Linked DNA regions of Homo sapiens. The protein of the gene in region 1 purifies or fractionates together with the protein of each later gene. This does not show direct contact. Each region holds a gene or a part of one and is shown in the gene's direction. Other genes may lie near its edges. The genes, in order: ASS1, EPHX1, IARS2, PITRM1, NHLRC2, ADK and ETFB.

Region 1 (3,500 bases):
AAGGGGCAAAGAGAATGGGAGGGTGGGGGAGAGCGTTTTTATTGCATTTTCTCTTTCATTCTGGGGGGCTTTCTCGCCCCTTCTCTCCCTGCAGCAGGCCTCAACCTGCACAGGGCTTTTGAAGGAGTCATTTGGAGTCCATATCTGTCACATCCATTTAAGGCGTTTCGGGAGGAGGGAGAGGGTGGGGTGGCGGGTGCAGACTCCTCCGCTGAGCCGGGCCCAGAGGCCCACTGCCCTCTCTTCCCACCCTAGGGGTCCCTGTGAAGGTGACCAACGTCAAGGATGGCACCACCCACCAGACCTCCTTGGAGCTCTTCATGTACCTGAACGAAGTCGCGTGAGTGTCTGCAGCCCTGTCCGGCCTCTTGGGAACCGCCGTCTCGGGCGAGCACGAGCCTGGACCGTTGCAGCTAATGGTTGTGGCTGAGGCTCAGGGGTGCGGAGCACAGGCCATGTCCCTTCCCCATAGCCACAGAGTTTCCCGGACCAGGGGGACCCATTTGGCAGGAGAGGCTCCGTGGTCCTTAGCCTTGGAAGATAACAACCCCAGGAGGTCTCCTGCCTCCAAGGGATCATTAGGCCGGGGCTCTCAGGCCCTTGGCTGGATGGGAGGCCAGGATAGAAGGAAAGGGAGCAGTAGTTAGCTGTGGCGCTAGGCAGGGCCCCAGGACACAGGGAACGGAAGGAACAATGTGAACTCACACCTGGGCAATCCCTGCTCTCTCTGGGCCTCAGTTTCCCCACCTGTCCAGTGGGCACCTGGACTAGGTGACCCGGCTCAGATGTCCTCTTGAGTCTTAGATCCTGAAATGCTGCCTAATGTGTGGCCTAAGCTGTGCCCACCCTGGGACAGCCCAGCTGGGTGGGTGACTCTGAGCCTTGCGGTAGCGCCCGAACCTAATGGACCAGTTCTTCCCACAGGGGCAAGCATGGCGTGGGCCGTATTGACATCGTGGAGAACCGCTTCATTGGAATGAAGTCCCGAGGTGAGTCTGCTCAGCCTCCCTCAGGGCCTGCCTCGGGACCCAGCAAACCCAGAGATCCCTGAGACCCTGTCCCCTTTGGACGCTACTACCCCCATGCTCCGTGGGCGACCTTGGGCACGTCCTTTCACCACACCCCGTGAGACCGCAGTTTCCCTCCTGCCAAGTGGGGATCGTGGGCCCTTTGCCCCTGACTTTCAGGGTGTTATGAGAAGAGCTGTCCAAGGGCTGGGAGAGGCCCAGGAGGGCCTGGGGAGTCTCCGAGGAGCAGGGAGGCCAGGGCCAGGCCTGGAGGTCAGGCTGTCTTGTGTCTGGGGTGGGCAGGCCGGGTGTGGAGGCAGACCGTGCAGGCCCGATTTCGTGGTCATTAAGGCCGCATGGAGGCCGCCGGCCAGGCAGGGCGAAAATCCTGCCAGGGGTGGGCGCTGTGGCTGCACAGGCACTGGGAGCCGGCCAGGGCCTAAGGACCTGTCCCAGCATCAGGCACGGCTCACTGGCCCTTTTCTCCAGGGATGGGGCTGTGCCACAGTTGGGGCTGTGCCGCAGTTGAGGCTGAGCTTCAGTGTGACATGCCTGCCACCTCGGCTGGCCTCTAGCCTGCCTAGCCTCGTATCCGCCTGTGGCTGGGCCCAGGAGCAGGGCAGTTGGTCCCCAAGCAGGTGCCTCTGTCTTCTCTTAGTAGCCAAAGCCCATGATTCCCTTTGTCAGCCAATCAGCATTTCATCTTGACCACAACCCTCCTCTCCAGGACTCAGTTTCCCCATTCATACACCAAGGGGATCTCAGCTCCCTGAGGGTCTGCCAGTGTGTGATAAAGCCATGCTGTGTTCTTTCTTGGGGGTCCTAAGAGGGAAAGAGCAAGGTTTCAGCAGTTGCAGCCCCTGAATTGGGCACCTGAATTTTTATACTGGTGGTGGGGTCAGGGCTTCCTGTTTCGGTAAATGTTCAGGTCTCTTTGCTTAGGGTTGATTTGAAAAGATACCACAACCAAATATCACCTGGCCACGGTATAGTCACGGCCCCATGTCTCTCAGGCTATTTTTACTAAGATTCTAAAATCCAAAGAGAGCCGATCACCCCATGTGGGCCAGAAGAAAAGGGTGGTGGTCCGGAGGGCAGGATGCCTGCTTCTGGTCTCAGGTTTGCCCTGCCTTGCCCAACAACCTTGGACTTGTCATCTATCGCTAGGCCTCAGTTTCCCCAAGTGTAATGCGGTAGGCGCTGGGAGTTGCATCACTCTGGCTCTGACCTGTCTGCGTTTCCCTGGAAAGGCATGGCAGCATGGACCGGGGCGGGGACGGGCTTGCCTCGAAAGACATGGGAGCGCGGAAGGGGAGGCAGGCTCGCCTCTTTCTTGTGGCTTTAGCTCCTTGCTTGCTGTTATTCAGGAGAAACAACCTAATTGAAGCTCTGGGGAGGCCTTGAGAACAATGTTACTAATTAGCTGCTCCTTTTTATCCGGGCTTACCTTTGTCTCTTACCTATATTAACATGTGATTAGATGCCCCTTTGTCGCAGCCTGCCCTTGGGAGCCAGCGCGGTGTGCACCCTCCAGGGAGAGCTGGGAGGGACCTTGAGGAGCCACAGACCAGCACCCCATTTACAGATGCGGAAGCCAGGGCTGGGGAGGGGTGGGATAGAGGGCTTGCTTCAAGTCCCAGGCACTTTAGTGGCAGGACCAGGACTGCCATCTGGGCCCAGAGTGGCATGGAGTGGAGGGCTAACAGCTTAGACTGGAGTTGGACAGATCTGGGTTCAAACTCATGTATGGTGGCAGGAACTGGTACACTGGAAGTGCTCCATAAATAGCCATCAGTCCCCCGGGCATGTGGAATGGGGACAGAAGCAGCCCCCATCCTCTGGGAGCTGTCAGTGTGGCGGGGGGTGGGGTGGGTTCCAGTATTGCACCTGTCTTATCATAATAAGGGCCTGCCACAGGCATGCCCTTGCCATGCCTGTGGCAGGCATCACCAGTCAATGCTGGCATTATCCTGTTGACTCCAGAGGTATCTCAGGGCTGCTTGCAGGCACTACCAAATGATCAGGATTGGCATACGTGATGAAAGTGTATTGCCTTCCCTATTGGAAAGATAAGGACTGGCCTGAAGTCACTGTGAAATGGCATCCTGTGGGGTGGGGCGAGTCAAGCAGAGTTGAGCAAAAATGAACTGAAGGAGGTGGTTAGTGATGAAAACCTGGAATGCACTATTCTGAATGTGGAATGGTAGCTGACAGCATTCCACGGAGGCTGGACCTTTTTCCCAGAATGGGGGCCTCATCCCCGTAGAAGGTCAAAGCCATGAGATCAACAGTCTGTTCCAATCCCCGTGGCTCCTTACCACCCACCTGGGGAAAGCTTCCTGGAGCCCAGCCTTCACTCTGCCCTGGTACTTTGTGTGTGCTGTTGGAGGCTCTCCCCAAAAGCACAGAATTTAGTCAGTGTCGTACAGGGAAGAAAATCGGGATTCTGACGGCAAGAACTTGCTGTGTGATCTTAGGCAAGTTTCTCCCTCT
Region 2 (4,263 bases), on another chromosome or scaffold:
AGCCCCACCTCTGGCGTTAAGTCCTGACTCCTACCTGTTTCACCATCACTGCAGTTTTAAGAGTAACGAATTTGGGTCCCCTGGTGAAGTGGCCAGAGGCAGAGCTTCTGTGTGAACTATTTGGAGGGGAGGGGAAAGAACTCTCCCAGACTGCAGGTTCTGAAAGGAATACAGAGATGTCAGAGACTGCAGTTGCAAGAGAAAGCTTTTATAGGAGGGTGTAGAATTAAAGGACAAGAGGACTCTACATGTGGATGGAGGAGGGCACCCTGTCCGGCAGTACTGCAAGAGCAAAAGTTTGGAGGTGGGAGTGAGGTGAGTGCGTCTGCCGGCCAGAATTCTTGGGCCAGGGTGAGCAGAAAGGTTGGAGGCCAAGGGAAGGTGGGTGGTGGTGAACCTTATCCTGAAGTGTGCAAGGTGACAGTCAGAAGCTTAGAACTCCAGCCACGGGCCCTGCATGTGGCCTCCTAGCTGTAGTCTGTCCACCGAGATCGTGAGGATGCTGGTGGTTGAAAGAACTGCACCTCTGAGCAGGTGAAGAGAGAAGCTAAGGAGGGGTGATGGCAGAGGCGATGGGACAGGCTTTCTAACGATGAGGGGCTGGGGATCAACGCTCTCACGGAAGCTAAAAGAGCCCCAGCAACCACCCGCCTGGGCCCTGAGCTCTCTCCAAAGCGGGAGGGGATTCACTAAGAGGTTGCTCCCCTGGCATTGAACTCAGCATCCTATACTGGTCCTCACCATGAAGACCCCCAAGAGTGCTTCAGACCATTGCTTCTCACATTCTCTGTATAAAGACACTAATTTGTTTTTAGATTTCCAAGCATGTCACGGACCAATATGTTTGTTAAATATACTAAGAATGAATTGCTAGAAAGATGAAATTAAAAAGACATACACCGCCAGGTGCAGTGGCTCACGCCCATAATCTCACCACTTTGGGAGGCGGAGGTAGGTGCATCGCTTGAGCCCAGGAGTTCAAGATCAGCCTAGGCAACAAAGTGAGACCCCCGTATCTACAAAACTTAAAAAATTAGCCAGGTGTGGTGGCGCAGTCTGTAGTCCCAGCTATTCTGGAGGCCGAAGTGGGAGGATCGCTTGAGGCTGCAGTGAGCCGAGATCGCACCACTGCACTCCAGCCTGGGTGATAGAGTGAGACTCTGTCTCCAAAAAAAAAAAGGACATACATCATGCAAGTTTGGATTTTTGTTTTTAGATTCAACTGACGAAGTTACGGGATCAAACTGCTGTAGGAGCTGCCAAACGCTTCTCTCCATTTCTGGCCGCGGGGCCGCGGACCGCCCTTTAAGTAGCCCGTTTTATCCCTGGCAGAGGTGGAGCCTTAGGCAGGCCTAGAGACTTTCCCGGGTCCTCCAGGCCGGGGAACGCCCCGCTCGGAGGCCGGGCTTGGGCGGAGACTGCGCCGGGGCTGCTGAAAACTAGCCGAGGAGAGCCAGGGAGCCGGAGAGATCGCGCGCCTGCCGCCGCCGGAGCCTGCGAGCCGAGACCGTAAGCGCCCGGGGCCGGCCGGGCCCGCACTCCCCGGACGCAGACGCGGTTCGGGCTCCGCGCGGGCTCGGCCGCCGGGGTGGGCGGCGGGCCGGGGCGCCGAGGGGTCGGGGCTGCGGTCGGCCCGCAGGGGTGCAGAGGGACTTGTAGTTGGTCCGCCCCCAGCTCCTGCCCCGGCCAGGAGACTGCGCGTGCCGCCTACTGGGGGAAGGAGCCTGCAGGCGACCGCGGACTTCTCGCAGGGAATTCCGCGTCCCAGACTGTGGGCGGACGCCGCAGGGAGGGAGGCTCGCGACCCCGAGAGCGCACCGCGTCCCCTGGCCTGGGCGAGCTCTGCTTCCAGGGCCGTGGCTCGCTCGGCGGTGAAATGCACTTAATTTGTCACCCAAGTCGGAACACTGATTTTCATGCGCGTCCGTGTGAAGAGACCACCAAACAGGCTTTGTGTGAGCAACATGGCTGTTTATTTCACCTGGGTGCAGGCGGGCTGAGTCCGAAAAGAGTCAGCCAAGGGAGATAGGGGTGGGGCCGTTTTATAGGATTTGGGTAGGTAAAGGAAAATTACAGTCAAAGGGGGGTTCTCTGGCGGGCAGAGTGGGGGGGGTCACAAGGTGCTCAGTAGGGGAGCTTTTGAGCCAGGATGAGCCAGGAGAAGGAATTTCACAAGACAATGTCATCAGTTAAGGCAGGAACAGGTCATTTTCACTTTTGTGGTGGAATGACATCAGTTAAGGCAGGAACCGGCCATCTGGATGTGTAGGTGCAGGCCACAGGGGATATGATGGCTTAGCTTCGGCTCAGAGGCCTGACACTGATCACACCTTTTAGTTGAAATGCGCTTTCATCTCCATCTGCTGCCGCAGCCGCCGCCCGGCACCCCCTCGCTCTGGTCTCGGGATTGAAGGCCAGCCCTCTCCTCTTGTAGAACAGGAAACTTGCCCGGGAGTTCACCTTGTAGTTGAAGCCAGGGAATGTGGTCAACCTGAGCAAAAGCGCCGCGGAGACCGAGTGGCCGCCTGCCTCCCTCCCTGGCAGATGTCGGTTTTCTCTGAGCTTCTGGCTCCTTCCTTGCCCTGGCGGCTCCCGAGATCTTGGAGGTGGGGTGCCTAGCAATGTTGTAATCCTAATTTTGACTTTTTTTTCTTAAAGTTGAATGCCCCCTCCATAGCCCACCTCCCATTGTTTAAACTTCAGGTTCCGCAAAGCCTGGATCCGCCCCTACAGGCAACACTCGTTGTCCTGGAAGTTCTGTGAGGGCTCAGCTTGTGGCTGGAGGTGGGAGGTGAGGGGGACCCATGCACTTGGCAGGCCCGCTTCCAGGACAGCCCTTTGCTGGGATTGATGAGCTGTTGGTGGAAAATTGTTGAGGACCTTGGGGTTGGTGGCTGTTTCGGTACCACTGTGCAGCCTCCTCTGCATCCAGCATAATTTAAAATAAACATTTTCAGGAAGCCACACTTCTCCAGAAAGTAACATTGTTTTCTGGTGTAACGGTTGCCTCCTTCAGGGAGCTAGGTTTGGGGGATAATAGGGGGCCTTTCACTGGCCCCACTTGGTCTGACTTAGCAGCAAAAACTCTGCGAGTGCTCTCCAAGCAGTTTTTCTTTCCCAAATTTCCACACCTAGGAGGCGCTGAGGAGGCATGGGCGGTACTTAGGAACTGCTCACTGTGGAACTGAGGCACAGCGGGGAGCATGCCCTCGTGGGATTTGCAGTTCTAGGGGCAGAGGGATAATAAACAAAATACATTTGTAAACTATAAAGTATGTTAGAAGATGATGTGTAATATGGAGATAAATAAAACTTTAAAGAGGGGAGAGGAGTGCCAGGTGGAAAGGGAAGGCCTCACTGAAGGGTGGCACTGGCATAGACCTGAAGAGTTAGGGAGCAGCCAAGCTGCTGCCTGGGGTGCAGGTGCAAAGGCTGGGGGCAGGAGTGTGCCCAGCTTGAATGGCCTGATGTTTGTGTTTGCAGAGTGTGGGTCAAGCTGATGAGTGACCTACTGGATAAACTGAACTAGCTCAGTCTGTAAGTGAGGGGACTCCTGAGCTTTCTGCGGCCTTCTTCCCAATTCCAGGAAAGGAAGGACCTTCCACAGAAAATAACTACTCAGCAAGACAGCCAGGGTGAACCTCAGCACCATCTGTGACAAGCCACATGCTCTCTGCGTGATGCCTCCTGCCTCTCAGCTGTGCCTGAAGCACACTAGCTGGCATGGACTTACGCGGCTGGGAACATCTTCAGGAAGCCCTGAATGAGGGCTCTGTGGGCAGAGGGACCTTTGCAGAAAGGGCATCTTGACCACTGCAGGAGGTGGAGTGACTCTCCTGGGGTGTCCTGGTTCCTGCCTGATGTCTTAAGCATAACTGGCATTTTCAGGGAGCCCAGGTTCACCAATGCACAGTGCCCCTCCTGTCGACCTGATACCCAGGCTTGGTGATTGCTCACCTGGCACCTTGATTCCCGTTCTGGTATCTTGGCCCAGGCCCAGACATGTGAAAGCAGGGGCTACCGAGATTCATTTCTCAGTTCTTACGCCAAGAGGTTCAACCACATGGATCACAGCTGGGTGTACCAAATAAGGGAGGACCAAGCATGAGCTGGTCACCCCTGCTGAAGAAGTAGCTCGAAGCCCACCCACTCGGGGACAGAGTGGGCACAGATGGGATAGACAGATAGTGATTCGAGGGGTGCCTAGGATCTCATACTGAAAACCCACCTCTGCTAGGGCCATAAATCCCATCAACAGCAATT
Region 3 (3,500 bases), on another chromosome or scaffold:
TAGACCTGATATATTACTTTTCTAGGGCTACTGTAAAAAATCACCGTAAACTTGGTAGTTTGAAACAACAGAAATTTATTCTCTCAAGTGCTGGAAGCTAGAAGTCTAAATTCATCGTACTGGCAGGACCATGTTTTCCTGAAGGTTTTATGGGAGAATCCTTACTTGCCTCTTTCTAGCTTTTGGTGGCTCCTGGAAATCCTTGGCATTCCTTGGTTTATAACTGCGTTACTCCACTCTCTGCCTGTCTTGTCACATGGCCTTCTTTAGATCTTACTTGTTTTTTCGAGACAATCTCACTTTCTCACTCAGGTTGATGTGCAGTGGCATGCTTTCAGCTCACTGCCACCTCTGTGTCCTGGGTTCAAGTGATTCTTGTGCCTTAGCCTCCTGAGCAGATGGGATTACAGGCATACACCACCACACCCAGCTAATTTTTTTTTTTTTGAGACACAGTCTCACTCTGTTGCCCAGGCTGGAGTGCAGTGGTGTGATCTCAGCTCACTGCAACCTCTGCCTCCTGGGTTCAAGCAATTCTCTTGCCTCAGCCTCCCAAGTAGCTGGGATTACAGGATACACACCACTACTCCTGGCTAATTTTTGTATTTTTAGTAGAGATGGGGTTTCACCATGTTGGCCAGGCTGGTCTTGAACTCCTGACCTCAGGTGATCTGCCCACCTTAGCCTCCCAAAGTGCTGGAATTACAGGCGTGAGCCCTCACTGTGTCAGGCCATAATTTTTTTATTTTTTATTTTATTTTTATTTTTTTTTTAAGACGGAGTCTCGCTCTGTTGCCCAGGCTGGAGTACAGTGGCACGATCTTGGCTCACTGCAAGCTCTGCCTCCTGGGTTCATGGGTTCTCCTGCCTCAGTCTCTCGAGTAGCTGGGACTACAGGCGCCTGCCACCATGCCCAGCTAATTTTTTGTATTTTTAGTAGAGATGGGGTTTCACCATATTAGCCAGGACGGTCTCGATCTCCTGACCTCGTGATCCACCTGCCTTGGCCTCCCAAAATGCTGGGTTTACAGGCATGAGCCACCGCACCCGGCCTATTTTTTATTTTTAATAGAGACAGGGTTTCACCATGTTGGCCAGGCTGGTCTCAAACTCCCAGCCCCAAGTGATCCACCTGCCTAGGCCTCCCAAAGTGTTGGGATTATAGGTGTGAGCCACCGTACCCAGCCACCTTCTTTAGGTCTTAAATGTCTCTCTGTGAATCCTCTTTTTTTTTTTTTTTTTTTTTTTTTTATTGGAGGGACTGGTTCTTTATTTCAAAAAGACACTTGTCAATATTCAGTATCAAAGCAGGTGGACTATTGATTTCTGTTTCTCCCAATCGGCCCCAAAGAGACTATATCAAAGGACAGTACGTTTTAAGCCAGTATGCTGCAGGATGTACACCTGACAGACTTTACAGAAACCTTATCGGAAAGTGGGGATTGGGTAGGGAAAGAAACTTTAAAAGATCAGCAAACTGCCAGCCCGGCCAGGCACGGTGGCTCACCCCTGTAATCCCAGCGCTTTGGGAGGCTGAAGCGGACATATCACGAGGTCAGGAGTTCGAGACCTGCCTGGCCAACATGGTGAAACCCTGTGTCTACTAAAAATACAAAAAATTAGCCAGGTGTGGTGGTAGGTGCCTGTAATCCCAGCTACTCTGGAGGGTGAGGCAGGAGAATCACTTGAACCTGGGAGGCAGAGGTTGCAGTGAGCTGAGACTGCACCACTGCACTCCATCCTGGGCAACAGAGCGAGAGTCCATCTCAAAAAAAAAAAAAAAATCTGCCAGCTCACAGACTGTAGAGGGCTGTCACAGTCAAACTGGGTGGCCAGGGTGCCACCCAAAGAAGCAAAGTTTCAAAATAATACAAAAATTTAAAAAAGTTTTGTACATAAGCTATTTAAGATTTCTCTAGCATTAACTGATATTAAGCACAATGAGATGGCACTTTTAGAGACAGCAGCTTCAAACCCAGAAAAGGGTAATGAGATGAGTTTCACATGGCTGAATCAGTGGCAAAAACATAATCTTCTTTCTATCCTCCTCTAAGAACACCAGTGCTCCCTAATGCAGTGTGACCTCATCTAAACTTGATTACATCTGCAGAGGCCTGATTCCCAAGTAAGGTCACATTCACTAGTGCTGGGGGTTAGATCTTCTTGGGGACACAGTTCAACCCACTACACCTGGTTTCCTCCAGATTACCTGGAGACCATTTTAAGATTCATGGCATGAAAGATTATGGATCTAAACTTCAAATGTAGAATTCTAGATATAATCTGTTCATCTTTTCTTTGACGTGAAAAGAGGTAGAAGTGGCATAATTTGGAGTCTGATTAAGATTTTACAGTCCGTGCTTTTTTTTGCCAGGAGAATCCCAGAGCACGCCTTTGATACCTGGAAGGTGACTACTCTTTTTTATTTTATTTTTTTTTGTGAGACAGAGTCTCGCTTTGTTGCCCAGGCTGGAGTGCAGTGGCACAATCTCGGTTCACTACAGCCTCCGCTTTAGCTTAGGTTCAAATGATTCTCCCACCTCAGCCTCCCAAGTAGCTGGGATTACAGGCTCACACCACTGTGCCCTGCTAATTTTTTTGTATTTTTAATAGAGATGGGGTTTCACCATGCAGGCCAGGCTGGTCTTGAATTCCTGACCTCAAGTGATCCTCTCGTCTCTGCCTCCCAAACTGTTGGGATTACAGGCGTGAGCAACCACGCCCAGCCAAGTTGACTACTCTTTTATTTTTTGAGACGGAGTCTCGCTCTGTCACCCAGGCTGGAGTGCAGTGGCACGATCTCGGCTCACTGCAACCTCTGCCTCCCAGGTTCAAGCGATTCTCCTGCCTCAGCCTCCTGAGTAGCTGGGATTATGGGCACACACCACCATGCCCGGCTGATTTTTGCATTTTTAGTAGAGACGAGGTTTCACCATGTTGGTCAGGCTGGTCTCGAACTCCTGACCTCGTGATTTGCCTGCCTCAGCCTCGCAAAGTGCTGGGATTACAGGTGTGAGCCACTGTGGCTGGCAAGGTGACTACTCTTATTGCCACCTGTTGCTGCAGATTTAGTATTTTCTGGAAGTTTAGAGCATTTTTAGGATTTTCACAGTACTTTTTAATTATGTCTAATTTGGTGTTTTTTTTTTTAAAGTTATAAAGATGCTTCAGACTGCAAAGAATTTGTTGAAAGAGGAGAAATTGGTGCATAGCTATCCGTATGACTGGAGGACCAAGAAACCTGTGGTTATTCGTGCCAGCAAGCAGTGGTTTATAAACATCACGGATATTAAGACTGCAGCCAAGGTATAAAAAGCATCCTGTTTTAACAGGTCGGGCATATCATTCCCTCAGTATAAAGGGGCTGCATGTGAGGTTGAGGTGGGGTTTCAGGAGTAATAGGGATTGCTGCTATTATGATTTAGTTTCATAACATTGTAGAATTTTAGATCTGGAAGGACCTTGGACTTCCATTTTTTCATTATACATGTGTGAGAAAT
Region 4 (3,500 bases), on another chromosome or scaffold:
TTGGCAGGCTGTCCCATGGTGAGCATTTCGTGTGCAGTGAAGTTAATTTGATGGTTTGTGCCCCCCTTCAAAAATCCCGGTATTTAAGGAAAATTCTCTTCTGCTCATAAAATTGTTAAATGTTGAAATGCAAGAATTTCTAGAAAGATGTGTAGTGGTTTTAAATAAAATGTGCATAAGGGCCAGTAATTTTCCCTTTACTCTTTTCTTACCTCCCCGTTCCTTTTTTTTTCAATGCAGCATCACCGACACATTTGAAGCCTTCACATTAAGTCTTCTGTCTTCACTCTTGACTTCTGGGCCCAATTCTCCCTTTTACAAAGCCTTGATTGAATCTGGCCTTGGCACAGACTTTTCTCCTGATGTTGGGTGAGTTTATGATTAGATTAGATCAGTAGTTCTCATTGGTTGGGGGCAGTTTTGCTCCTCCACCTCCGCACCCTGTCCCGGCCCCACACTTGACAGTGTCTGGAACATTTTTGGATTTTTGATTGCTATAATCGGAAGATGGCGGACCAGGAAGTTGCTGAGTGTCTCATGGTACACAGGATGGCCGCCCCCATCAGGGAACTCTGGATGAGATCCTGGATCCAGTGCCAGCCATTTGTGTCCCCCCAAGGGGACATTTGTCCAAAAGAAAAACACCCAGCACAAAGACAGCTTTTCCAGGGCCTCAGAATGTCATGCTGTTGTCTCTTACAGGTCAGGTCATTAAGTATTAGAATTTTTTTTTTAGATGGAGTCTCTCCCTGTCGCCCAGGCTGGAGTGCAGTGACGCGATCTCGGCTCACTGCAAGCTCCACCTCCCGGGTTCACACCATTCTCCTGCCTCAGCCTCCAGAGTAGCTGGGACTACAGGAATTTTTAAAATTTTGTAAATCTCAGCAGTTCTCTGTTTTGATATTTATCCTGCCATAACTCAAAAGTTTAAATTTTATTTTTAAAAAATGATGTAAAAATGACATGGATGTACACAGAACCAGTTACTTGAGAACACTGCTTTAATGAGCTTTTCAGTGGAGGGGCTGGAGTTTAAGGCGCTTCGTTCTGATCTTTAAATCAAGCATATTACGAGGGCATGATGAACGTGCCCGGATTCCAGTGCATCATTTCTGGTTTTGTCTTCTAGATATAATGGCTACACGAGGGAGGCCTACTTTAGTGTCGGCCTCCAAGGGATTGCGGAGAAAGACATTGAGACCGTCAGAAGCCTCATAGACAGAACGATTGATGAAGTAGTTGAGTGAGTGTAGCTTGTTTGTAACAATCTGCTTTCGTTCCTCATTCCTGTGTGCTTTTTGGGAGAAGCTGAGCCTGATCCATTGTTTCGGCCTTCCTTCTCTGTCATATAACATGCTTTTGTTCATATTTAGTTGTTTAAATATTATCTCTGCTACCTTCTGTTACTAAAACTCTTCAACATCTTAGGTTTTTGTTTTGTTTTGAGACAGGGTCTCGCTTTGTCACCCAGCCTGCTGTGCAGTGGCGTGATCTCAGCTCACTGCATTTTCCTCCCCTACCAGGCTCAGGTGATCCTTCCACCTCAGCCTCCCAAGTAGCTGGAACTAGGGTGCACACCACCATGCCCAGCTAATTTTTGTGTAGTAGAGATGGGCTTTCTCTGTGTTGCCCAAGCTGGTCTTAAATGCCTGGCCTCAAGCAGTCCTCCTGCCTTGGCCTCCCAAAGTGCTGGGATTACAAGCATGAGCCATTGTGTCTGGCCCATCTTTGTTCTTCATTGTATTCTTTAGGAAAGGATTTGAAGATGATCGAATTGAGGCTTTACTTCATAAAATTGAAATACAGATGAAACATCAGTCTACCAGCTTTGGGCTGATGCTGACATCAGTAAGTGATCTCTCAACAATTTTGTTTTTGTTTTATAATAGACATTTTGTCTTGTTACTAGCTTAACTGGCTTTTTGATATTTTTATGTGAAATAGATTACTTTAAATGGGTAAGGGTTTATAACTAGTAATCTGTTGGTTATTTCCTAAACATTATTTCAGCCTGTGCTTTTTATTTTATTGGAACAAAACAGGGCTAAAGTAAGTTTTTTTGTTTCTCCATCCAAAGAATTACATGACTTTTGTTATAAACAATCATCTGTGGTATATTTAAATACAGAAACTAGGATTTTAGTATCAAGTCTGGGCTGTTGGTGGAGGTTGTACTGTGGTACCAGCTGCATTGTGGATGTGGAAATCTTCCTTCCAGTACATAGCTTCTTGCTGGAACCATGATGGGGACCCTGTGGAGCTCTTGAAGTTGGGAAATCAGTTAGCTAAATTCAGACAGTGCCTGCAGGAAAATCCAAAATTTTTGCAAGAAAAAGTAAAACAGTATTTTAAGGTAAGAAAGTTGGATAATTCATTTCTCTAATTTTGAAGTTGAATTTTATACTAATGAAAGGAATATTAGGAACATAATCTATACATTTAAGTAATTTCTGTTAATGGGTGACTTAATTTCTAATTAAAAATTTAAATGCTTACATTAACTTAATTATTTTCCAGATTGTAATGCAAGTTGAGTTTTTTAGATAAATGTATATGTGCATTTTTAGTGTGTGAATATATGTATGTTTGTGTGTATGAACAAAACATCTGCATATATTGTTCTTTTATTAGTAGAAGAATATAAAATATGTGAACAGTCACCCAAATGTAATGAATCTTCTGGTTTTCATGAGTGAATTCTTTTGATGCTTGCGCGTTTGTTTTCTCAGATTTTTAGGCAGTTGTGCTTGGTTGCCTGTTCTTTGCTTTGTACTCATTACTATGGTAGAACTTTTAAAAAGGGTTCCCGTGGTGGGAGAGACTGTTGTCTGCTGTGAAGGGAAACTCTCCAGTAGGTTCCATTGTTTTAGACATGAGATATGATTTAATAATTTGACCTGCAGTTTCTCTCAGCTGTTGTAAGTTATTTTCCATGAACTTTCTGGTGTCTTCTAGTTATCTCACCTGTTTGTAGTATTTTATATGGGAGCATTTTGTGCATGTGTAGTTTTTTAATTGTTGAAACAAGGAAAGGACATGAAATCACCTAATGTTCATTTTTATATTAACGTCAACATGTATTTTGTTCTAATAACTTACGAAGTATTGAATGGGAAATGTAGTTCTAGCCTTTTAGAGCTTAATAGTAGAATGAACGCTAGACAAAAAATAGAATTCTATATTATCTTCAATTAGACTAAAATCCAAGATCTGTAGTACTTGAAAGTGCAAACCTTTTTACAACTAAGATGTAATGAAAATGTTTAGTATTGATATGTTTAAGACTTAATGACCATAATAATAATAACAGTAGAATAACAGCATATATGAATTCTGTGCTTACTACATAGGCAGGTATGGTGGTAAGCATTTTATAAGGCTTGTGTACTTGCATCAGCAAAACAACTCTTGAGGTGCGTTCTATTATTACTATTTTTAAAGTGGGAAAGTGGAACCACAGGACCAAGAACACACCAGCAGAAGCTTGTTGAGTGTTAGGA
Region 5 (3,500 bases), on another chromosome or scaffold:
AGGGATGCTGTACTTTATTATTAGTTAACAAAATCTTTCTTCATAGTACAGAGCTTTCTTTTTTTGGAGGAAAGGGAACACGTTCTTCATTAATATTAATGTTACCTCAATGAAATCTGTGACAATAATAAGTGTATTTTGCTTAACTTTACATTTAGCATATTTTATTTTGTATTTACGGTCTCATCCAAATCCAGAATATTTCAGTTTCTTCTCCTTTAGGAAACTGTTTTAGGCATTTTGTATGTTTATCCTTACACACATTTCACTCCTTTTTGATGTTTAGTTATATCTTACTATTCTTAAGCTTGACCTTTATTCTCAGTAGCCCATTTGTATCTAATTGTTTATGTAATTAGGTTCATTTACTATTTGATATTTCTTCCTTTTTTTTTTTTTTTGCCTAAGTGTGTTGCCTTTACTCCTTTTCACAGACTGTTACCCTATTTCTGAAAGAATTTAGTAGCTTTTTCTTGCTTTATTTGCAGATGGCATCATAATAGCAGCTTTCCCATCCTCTACTCCTCCTGCTCCCCCACCCGTACCCCCATCCCTTCCTTTTCTTTCTTCCCTTTTTGGGCTTTTAATCTCTGCTAATTTGCCTTTTTGGTATGTTCTTCCAAACCCAAATACCTGTTTAGTTACAGTCATAAAGATATATCTTTTATTTCTTTTGTTGATAGAAAATGATGGTTCATAGTAAACAACTATAAATACATGCAACTGCCACAGCCTTTATATGGTGCTACTCTCTCAAAGTGTTTATTTGCATTAGTCTTAAAAAAAAAGGTCACATTTTAATGGAAAGTTTTAGGTAAATTTTATCTTTCTCTTTAATCATTGTAATTTATTTTATGTAAATTTCAGGATTAGAATGGCTGAACACAGAAGAACCTATTTCTGTCTACAAGGATCTATGTGGAAAAATAGTCGTCCTTGATTTCTTCACCTACTGCTGCATAAACTGTATTCACCTATTGCCTGATCTCCATGCATTAGAACACACATACTCTGATAAAGGTATCTGCTCTTTAATTAGTTTCTAACAGACTGTCCTGGCATAGTCACTGGAAGAGTGGCTGACTCATTAGCTCATAGGAGAATGAACATTTGGCAAGGCTTCAGGGATTCTAAAAGTAATCTCTTATCTATGAATTAAAGACTTCATGTACCTTTTCATAAAGGATTAAGCTTAGTGATAGTGGTTTGCCTATCTAAAGAACCAGCATTTAGTATATGGTTTTTCTCTGCGGATAGGGGCATAATTTGCTATTTTTCATGATCAGATATTTTAAAAGGTCTTTTTGTATGTTGAGGCTGACTTAAATTTGTTCTATTAAAAAAATAAAATATCTGACCTTAATTTTACACTGTTTTCACTGTGATACAAAGGTTTAAAGTTCTTATTAGGAAATGTGACTAGGCTTTCATTAATATTGAATGACATGAACTGCAGTGGAATGCAAAATATAACAGATACTCTTTCTTTGACCCTGCTTCATTAAAAAATGATTTATTACAGCTAATGTTTTTCAAAGCACACTAGGAAATCCATTTTTATGGTATTACAAATTCTAAAGATGTAGGAGATTATACTTATTGGCTTTAGAAGTTTGAAAAATTAATCAAATTTTTTTTGTCTACTTTCTAAAAAAAGAACATGGGAGTAAATGAAATTAATTAAAAGTATCATTTAATTAGGTTCAAGTGAATTGAAGCACTAATCTTGGAGTGGATAAAAAAAAGAGATAGGGTCACCGATCCTGTGTTAGTAAAGATGAGAATAGACTATATACGTGTGAAAGTAAAGGATATTCTGAAACTTAACTTTAAAGGGGAAGTGATAGAGAAATCTTCAGTGCAACTGAAACTTCAGATGCTTTTGAATTGTAATACATTGTATGTTAAAATTACCAGTCAAATGATTTATCAAGAACTCAAATATTTCTACTAGCTAAATCCTGTTATTAAAAATTTATCTGTATGGATTTAAGAAATATGGATATCTTATCTCCTAGGTTTTAGATGCCAGTGTTTCTTGTTCAAGACATCACGTTTATTGAACATGTTGTTATGTGCAGGGTACTCTGCTAACTGCTGAGGAAATATGTAACAAAATTGAATAAAAAACATTATGGAACCTAAGGAAAGGAATAAGTCACTTTGCCTAGAAACATTGGAAAAGATTTCTCAGAGAAGGAGACAATTGAGCTAGAACTTGAAAAATAAGCAGGAGTGCAGCTGAAAATGAAAGTGGGGCAGAAGGGACACTCCTGGCTGAGGAAGCTTCAGGTAAACAAGCATGGAATCACAGAGGAGTAGGATTCTTGCTCCAAGAACAGGTAAATAATTTAGTGTGGCAAGATTGTAAGAGTTCATGGTAAAAGTAAAAGGAGACAAAGGTAGGTTAGGTTAGGAGCACATTGTGAAATGCATTGTATAGCGTTCTTAATAGTTTAGACTTTTCCTTCTGTGAGGATACAGAGATTGAAGTTTGTTTTTGATTTGTTTTTTTAGTAGACGGATGACATTTGTGTTTTAGAATGGCATTACACATGGAGTTAAGAATCTCAAAGTTTACCAGTTCCATACCTAAGATCACCCCTGAAAGACTATTTGGTGAACTCATGGTTAACCCCATACCTTAAGCAGATTCAGTGACTTCCTAGAATGGATCCTTATAATCTCCTACTAGTTTACTGGAAACATTGTTTTTATAGCACATTGTGACAAAAAAATTAAAAATATTTTTATATACAAATATGCTTCTGAAAAGCAAAATACTTTGTAAGTGGAGCAAGAATTCACTGTCAGTTTCAACAAAGAATCACAAAGCATACACAAAGAACAGGGAAGTACAGCCCATTCAAGAACAGGGAAGTACAGCCCATTCAAAGGAAAAAAATAAACCGATAGAAATTGTCTCTAAAAAATACCTGATACATATCTATGAGACAAAGACTTTAAAACACTGTCTTAAAGATGCCCAAATAACTAAAGGGAAATATGGAAAAAGTTTTAAAAAAACAATGTATGAAGAAAATGGAAATACAATAAAGAGAAAACCTAAATAGAAGCTAGAAAGAAATTCTGGAACTGAAAAGTGGACTAACAGTGAGGAGAAACTCACTACAGAGGCTCCTTGACTTATAGTGCAGCTGATAAACCCATGGTAAGTTGAAAATATCATGAAGTTGAGAAAGTATGTTTAATGCTTGGTAGCACAGCAGATGGTCCCTGACTTATGATGATTCGACTTAAAATATTTTGACTTGATGGTGGAAAGGTGATACTCAGTAGAAATCATAACTTTCTAAATCCTAAGGAGCTCTTTGACTTACAGTGAATTATGTCCAGATAAACTCATCGTAAAGTTGAAAAATTATAAGTCATACCCTCATAGGTCAGGGGCCATGTAGAGACTCGAAGACAGATTTGAGTAGGCAGAAAGAAGAATCAGTGAACCTGAAGATAAGGCAATGGAAATGATTAAGGAACAA
Region 6 (3,500 bases), on another chromosome or scaffold:
TCTTTCAGGAACTTCCATACCATTTTAGTAGTGGCTGTACCATGTTACATTTCCACCAACACTGCACAAGGGTTCATTCACTTCTCCACATTTTGCCAGCATTTTTTGTTTTCTGTGTTTTCGGTAGTAACCATCCTGATCAGTGTGAAGTGATATCTCATTGTGGTTTTGATTTCCCTGATGATTACTGATGTTGAACATCTTTTCTTGTGCTTATTGGCCATTTATATATCATTTTTGGAGAAATGTCTATTCAAGTCCTTTGCCCATTTTAAGATCATGTTATTTGTATTTTTATTGTTCATTTAGAAGTTTGTTATATATTCTGGATATTAACCTTTCATTGGATATATGGTTTGGAAATAAGTTGCCTTTTCACTCTGTTGATTGCCTCCTTTGCCATGCAGAAGTTAAGCTTGATATAATCACATTTATCTATTTTTGCTTTTGTTGCCTGTGCTTTTGTTCCATATTTATGAAATCATTGCTAAATCCAATGTCCTGAAGCTGTCCCCCATATTTGAAAATAATATATATTATTAAGTTTTATTTTTTAAACAAAGCTTTTTACCTTTGAGACTTGATTTTTTTTTGAAGTTAACAAAATATCCTGGAAATTACTTTGTATAGAAGGAGTGTTCCACAGAGCTTTTCCTTTTTTTGTGTTGTTTTGCTGGGATTTTTGAATGGCTGTGTGGTATTCCATTGTGTGGATATATCATAATTTAATCGACTGATCTTCTACAGGTGGACTTCTAGTTTATTTCCAACATTTTGCCATTACAAATAACATCTCAATACTTATATATGTGTTGTTTTATATTGTGGATGAGTCTGTAGAAGTGGGATTGCTGGTCATTAAGCTGTTACTATGTCTCATTCTTACAGTTCTGTCTTTGTTACTTTTTCCTCTCCTCATCCTTTTACCTCTCAAATATGCATGTATTTCTTTTCTATTCCAAATATTTGAGAACAGATTTTATCAAAATCTATTTTGATATCTTTTGACTTTGTATGTAGATTATTTGTAGGTTATTTTGCTACCTGTAAGTCTTTGAAACTAAACAGGTGTTACCTATAGAATCACTATAGAATATTAGAACCCTCAGGGATTTGAGCTAATTATAAAAGGTAAAAAGTTCAAATCTGTGAAACATATGCATCTTACAAGAAATCCATTAAAGCTTATAATAATTACTTCAATGAAAAAATGAGATATTTGTAACTAGAACTGTAACACTATTTCTGAATTTTTAAAAGAATTTTTTTAGATATGAGCATGTTTTAGCTTAATTTATATATGAATTACTACAATAAGTATGACAATCATAGTAACAGCCACAGCTAATATATGTTGTTGACTATGTGCTGGGTACCATGCTCAGCAATGCAAGTACATTAATTTACATCATTTCAATTAGTCCTCAACGACCTTATGAGATGTATTTGTAATTATATCTCCACTTTAAACATGAGTGAAATGAGAAATGTTAAGAGATATGCTCTAACATGCTCTAACTCATGCAGCTAGTAAGTGGCAGAAGCAAGATTTGAACCCAGAGAGTCTTCAATCAAGATGGATTCTGCTCTTTTTATGACAATGCTAGACTTCTTATATTGGGACCCACTATTATTTTCCTATATCAGGCCAGCATTTGTCTTAAGGTCTGTATGATTTTAGCTGCTGAGTCCTTAACAACTTTATGTACTTTATTTCTCTCCCCAAAGCAGTATAAGATATTACATGGTTGTTATATTAAGTTTTTTTAATCGTAAGTGATAGCACAGAATTGAAATCCCATTCATAACAGCTACAGTTTCTCACAAAGCATTCTTGTCACATCACTATCTGTGGCAGAATATTAAACTATGTGTACCATTTTTTTGCCCCATTAAATTATTTATGTTCCTGTTTTACAGTGGATGATTCAACAGCCACACAAAGCAGCAACATTTTTTGGATGCATTGGGATAGATAAATTTGGGGAGATCCTGAAGAGAAAAGCTGCTGAAGCCCATGTGGATGCTCATTACTACGAGCAGAATGAGCAGCCAACAGGAACTTGTGCTGCATGCATCACTGGTGACAACAGGTCAGTGTAATTCCAAGGGAACCACTATACTAATTGGCTATTTTAACACTGGTAAAATATGAATTCCAATGTGAATTTGGAATTTTGACTTTATAATTCCTTTTAATGTTTGATAAATGCTTATTCCTTATATCAGTTTTCCTGTATTGTTTTTAAATTTACTTTTGTTAAACATGCAGTTGAATTCATGAGGCATAATGGAATAAAAGTTTGAGGTTATTTAGTCCAGTCTCTACTTTTTATAATTAGAATCAGAAAAGGCTGATAGCTTGCTCAATGCCTTGTAGCTTGCTCAACACCTTGTAGCTAATTTGTTGCAAAACTTGAATTAGAAACAATGTTCTTTTCACCATATCCTGAGGTTGGAATACGAGAGAGAGAGACAGAGAGACAGAGAGAGAGTGTGTGTGTGTATTTTATGTATATAAAATACAACATTACATTCAGGCTCGTAAGACTTAGTCATCTAAATGGTCATCTAAACCATTTCTGGCAAATAGTAATTCATTCATATTGAATAAACTCAGTCGTGGGTAGTATACCACTAACAAAACAACCAAGTATATTTCTATACACCCTTACTTATTAGAAAAGTATTCTTAATATGAACTTGAAATATCTCTCTCAGGCCCCTCCATATATTGGTTGGTTGTTCTTTTGTACCCACATGGAGATACTCCTTCAGTGTATTCATGCACTGCTAACGTTATTACCATATCAGCACAGGCTTTTTTCCCCTTTGCAAGGGAAAAACAAAATAACTGCCCTAGCTATTATATTGTTGGGATAATCAAAGATGACCTCTTTTTAAATAGTGATTCACTAGAAATTTTGCATTACTTATAGTTGGAAATATGTAGTCTGTCCTCCTCCATTCCCTATCTCCTTTCTTTTCCCATCTTCTCTTCCTTTCTTTTTTTCCCTTTTCATCCTCCTTTATTTTCTTCCCCCTCTCCACCACGACCTTGCTCCATTTCTTCTATTTACCCACTTTATTGCTCACTACTTGACCTTCAGCAGAGGTATATTAAGGAATGGACTATTCTAGAGACTGGGGATCAATAAGCACAGTATTTACTAAATAACCAAAATACAATATTCAAAAATTATTAGGGTATGAAAGGCATTTTCAGATCTTTCCTTTAATTTTGTTTTTTATATACAGGAGAACTTTATGGTTTTAAGATTACAGTAAACATTGAAATATGGGATTCAGGGATTTTAAAAAAAAACAACTAAAAATGTTGAAATATGTTTGTTTAGACCTTTGCCCTTAGTTTTCCCAAGACCAGCCTTAATCTGTAGGTGCAAAGTTTTCCCATTAGTGAGAAGTAGGTCAGATTTTCTTCTGATATCACTTAGGCTACAGTAAAATTACTAAATTGTTTTAGTATGCTAAATTGCTGT
Region 7 (2,360 bases), on another chromosome or scaffold:
AACAGACAAAATTATATTTTATTTCACCCCATTATATCTAAAATATTATTTTAACATGTAATCAACATAAAAATATTAAGATACATATGCTCTACAAGCAATGGGGTTACGTCCTGATAAATCCATCATAAATTGAAAATATTATAACTGAGAGAATGCATTTAATATTCTTAATCTACCAAATATCATAGCTGAGCCCAGCCTACCTTAAACATGTCACAACACTTAACGTTAGCCTACAGTGGGGTAAAATAATCTAACATAAAGCACATTTTATAATAAAGTGCTAAATATCCCATGTAATTTATCAAATACTGTACTGGAACTAAAAAAACGGAATGGTTGTACGGACACTGGCAGTATGGTTTCTACTGAATGTTTATCACTGTCACATCATCGGAAAACTGAAAAATCTTAATTCAAACCATCATAAGTCAGGGACCATCTGTATTTTACGTTTTTTGGATTTTCTTTGTACTAAATCTTCAAAATTCAGCATGTATTTTATATTTACAGCACATCTCAATTCAGGTGCTAAATTTCTATGAGAAACACATTCCTAAAGATGACAGTTGAAATAGATTTACACACCCAAGTTGTTCAAAACAAACTTAAAAGTTTTCTAGTAACTGCATTTCCAGTAACTGCATTGGGTATCTGTGTTTTTTTGTTTGTTTGTTTGTTTGTTTTTGTTTTTTTTTTAAACAGCTTCGTTGAGTTATTTACCTACAATAAACCGCACATATCTAAGTTGCACAATTTGTTAAGTTTGCTTTTCTTAAACTCTTTTATTTAGATAGAGATGGGGGTCTCACTATGTTGCCCAAGCTGGTCTTTAACTCCTGGGCTCAAGCAAGCTGCTCACCTCAGCCCTCCAAAATTTAAGTTTTGATATGTGTTACATCCATGAAATCATCACCACAATCATGATAATGTGTCTTGAATTCTCAGTATTTATTTATTTTTATTTTTTTGAGGTGGAGTCTTGTTCTGTCCCCAGACTGGAGTGCAGTGGCGCGATCTTGGCTCACTGCAGCCTCCGCCTCCCGAATTTAAGCGATTCTCCTGCCTCAGCCTCCCGAGTAGATCGGATTACAAGCGTGCATCACCATACCTGGATAATTTTTGTATTTTTAGTAGAGACAGGGTTTCGCCATGTTGGCCAGGCTGGTCTTGAACTCCTGACCTCAAGTGATCCACCCGCCTTGGCCCCTCAAAGTGCTGGGATTACAGGCATGAACCACTGCGCCTGGCCAAATTATCAGTATTTAAATTTAAATAAAATGTAAAAATTCATTCCTCAGCTGCACTGGCTGGACAGCCACACGCAGCCAGTGGCTACTGGATGGGACAACACATTCAAAACCATTATCCTGTTTTATCTTCAAAGCATTTACCACTGTCTGACTAGCTTCTCCAACGTGCGCCCTTCTTGCTCTCATATCATGTGTCTTATTTTCTTCTTATTCCTTCTGATTGGAAATGATCTCATTTGTGTGTGTGTGTTTTTCCCTGGTGACTGGTTGTCTTCCCTGGCAGAATATGAGCCCACCCAAGCTGGTGCTTCACTGGTCGTGTTCACAGTGTGTCTCCAGGGGCAGGTTCATAAGGGCACTAGGAGGAGGTTGTGAATGAAGGGAGGTGATGTTCACACTAAGACCTGAAAAATGTGTCCAGTTAATAAGTGGACAGGGACAAAGGTCGTTAGACAAAGAGGAGTGTAGGTGGCATCAGTTACCAGGGGAGGAAATGTTGATTCAGGACTGAGAGGCAAAGGGACCTGGCTAGAGGACGGGGTCCCAGAAGGTGGTTTAAGGACTGGTGTGGACACACACAGTTCTGTTGTCTGCCCAGCGGAGGGGCCTCACGGGGGGCCGTTGGGAGCCAGATTGTCAGCTTTTGGATTTACCAGCTGTGGGTGGCAGTGGGCGTGTAACTCAGCATCTTGCTGCCTCAGTTTCTCTCATCTGTAAAGTGGGGATAATAACATTTACCTCATAAAGTTCCTGCGAGGATTCGATGACTTGATACATCAGTTGCTTAGCACAGGGCTCAGCACTCAGTACATGTTCCCTGTCAGGAAGGCAGGGAGGCCTCACTGGCAGCATCAGGACATGGGACATCAGGACATACACCGTGGCTCTCAGGGAAAGGAAAAAGACCCTCTCCCAGGTGTACAAGCTCGATTCTAAACCTCATGGGACCCTGCATTGTTCGCTCCCTCATTCATTCACTAGTCCATGCGTGTACTCAGTAGTGGCATAAGCAGACTGCTCGGGTCGGACCTGAATTAGCCTCACCCACTCTCCTCCTACACTGTCCCTCCCCAGGGCACATTCGCCTCCCAGGTGACGCTGGAG

Evidence for each region.
Region 2: the proteins of ASS1 (region 1) and EPHX1 fractionate together in Homo sapiens (co-fractionation; one large-scale study listed by BioGRID). This does not show direct contact.
Region 3: the proteins of ASS1 (region 1) and IARS2 purify together in Homo sapiens (affinity purification with mass spectrometry; one large-scale study listed by BioGRID and IntAct). This does not show direct contact.
Region 4: the proteins of ASS1 (region 1) and PITRM1 fractionate together in Homo sapiens (co-fractionation; one large-scale study listed by BioGRID). This does not show direct contact.
Region 5: the proteins of ASS1 (region 1) and NHLRC2 fractionate together in Homo sapiens (co-fractionation; one large-scale study listed by BioGRID). This does not show direct contact.
Region 6: the proteins of ASS1 (region 1) and ADK fractionate together in Homo sapiens (co-fractionation; one large-scale study listed by BioGRID). This does not show direct contact.
Region 7: the proteins of ASS1 (region 1) and ETFB purify together in Homo sapiens (affinity purification with mass spectrometry; one large-scale study listed by BioGRID and IntAct). This does not show direct contact.

What each region holds. Positions count from the first base shown.
Region 1 is NC_000009.12:130,479,461-130,482,960, forward strand, and holds part of ASS1 (argininosuccinate synthase), read left to right. Parts: intron 1-255; coding exon 256-340; intron 341-924; coding exon 925-989; intron 990-3,500. UniProt on the Homo sapiens protein: One of the enzymes of the urea cycle, the metabolic pathway transforming neurotoxic amonia produced by protein catabolism into inocuous urea in the liver of ureotelic animals.
Region 2 is NC_000001.11:225,808,661-225,812,923, forward strand, and holds the start of EPHX1 (epoxide hydrolase 1), read left to right. Parts: upstream 1-1,463; 5' UTR 1,464-1,509; exon of another isoform or gene 1,510-1,955; intron 1,956-4,263. UniProt on the Homo sapiens protein: Biotransformation enzyme that catalyzes the hydrolysis of arene and aliphatic epoxides to less reactive and more water soluble dihydrodiols by the trans addition of water.
Region 3 is NC_000001.11:220,107,632-220,111,131, forward strand, and holds part of IARS2 (isoleucine--tRNA ligase, mitochondrial precursor), read left to right. Parts: intron 1-3,154; coding exon 3,155-3,306; intron 3,307-3,500.
Region 4 is NC_000010.11:3,155,783-3,159,282, reverse strand, and holds part of PITRM1 (presequence protease, mitochondrial isoform 2 precursor), read left to right. Parts: intron 1-240; coding exon 241-369; intron 370-1,129; coding exon 1,130-1,243; intron 1,244-1,751; coding exon 1,752-1,848; intron 1,849-2,218; coding exon 2,219-2,353; intron 2,354-3,500. UniProt on the Homo sapiens protein: Metalloendopeptidase of the mitochondrial matrix that functions in peptide cleavage and degradation rather than in protein processing. Has an ATP-independent activity. Specifically cleaves peptides in the range of 5 to 65 residues.
Region 5 is NC_000010.11:113,857,661-113,861,160, forward strand, and holds part of NHLRC2 (NHL repeat-containing protein 2), read left to right. Parts: intron 1-867; coding exon 868-1,020; intron 1,021-1,026; exon of another isoform or gene 1,027-2,342; intron 2,343-3,500. UniProt on the Homo sapiens protein: Required for normal embryonic development.
Region 6 is NC_000010.11:74,392,221-74,395,720, forward strand, and holds part of ADK (adenosine kinase), read left to right. Parts: intron 1-1,920; coding exon 1,921-2,093; intron 2,094-3,500. UniProt on the Homo sapiens protein: Catalyzes the phosphorylation of the purine nucleoside adenosine at the 5' position in an ATP-dependent manner. Serves as a potential regulator of concentrations of extracellular adenosine and intracellular adenine nucleotides.
Region 7 is NC_000019.10:51,347,029-51,349,388, reverse strand, and holds part of ETFB (electron transfer flavoprotein subunit beta), read left to right. Parts: intron 1-2,330; coding exon 2,331-2,360. UniProt on the Homo sapiens protein: Heterodimeric electron transfer flavoprotein that accepts electrons from several mitochondrial dehydrogenases, including acyl-CoA dehydrogenases, glutaryl-CoA and sarcosine dehydrogenase.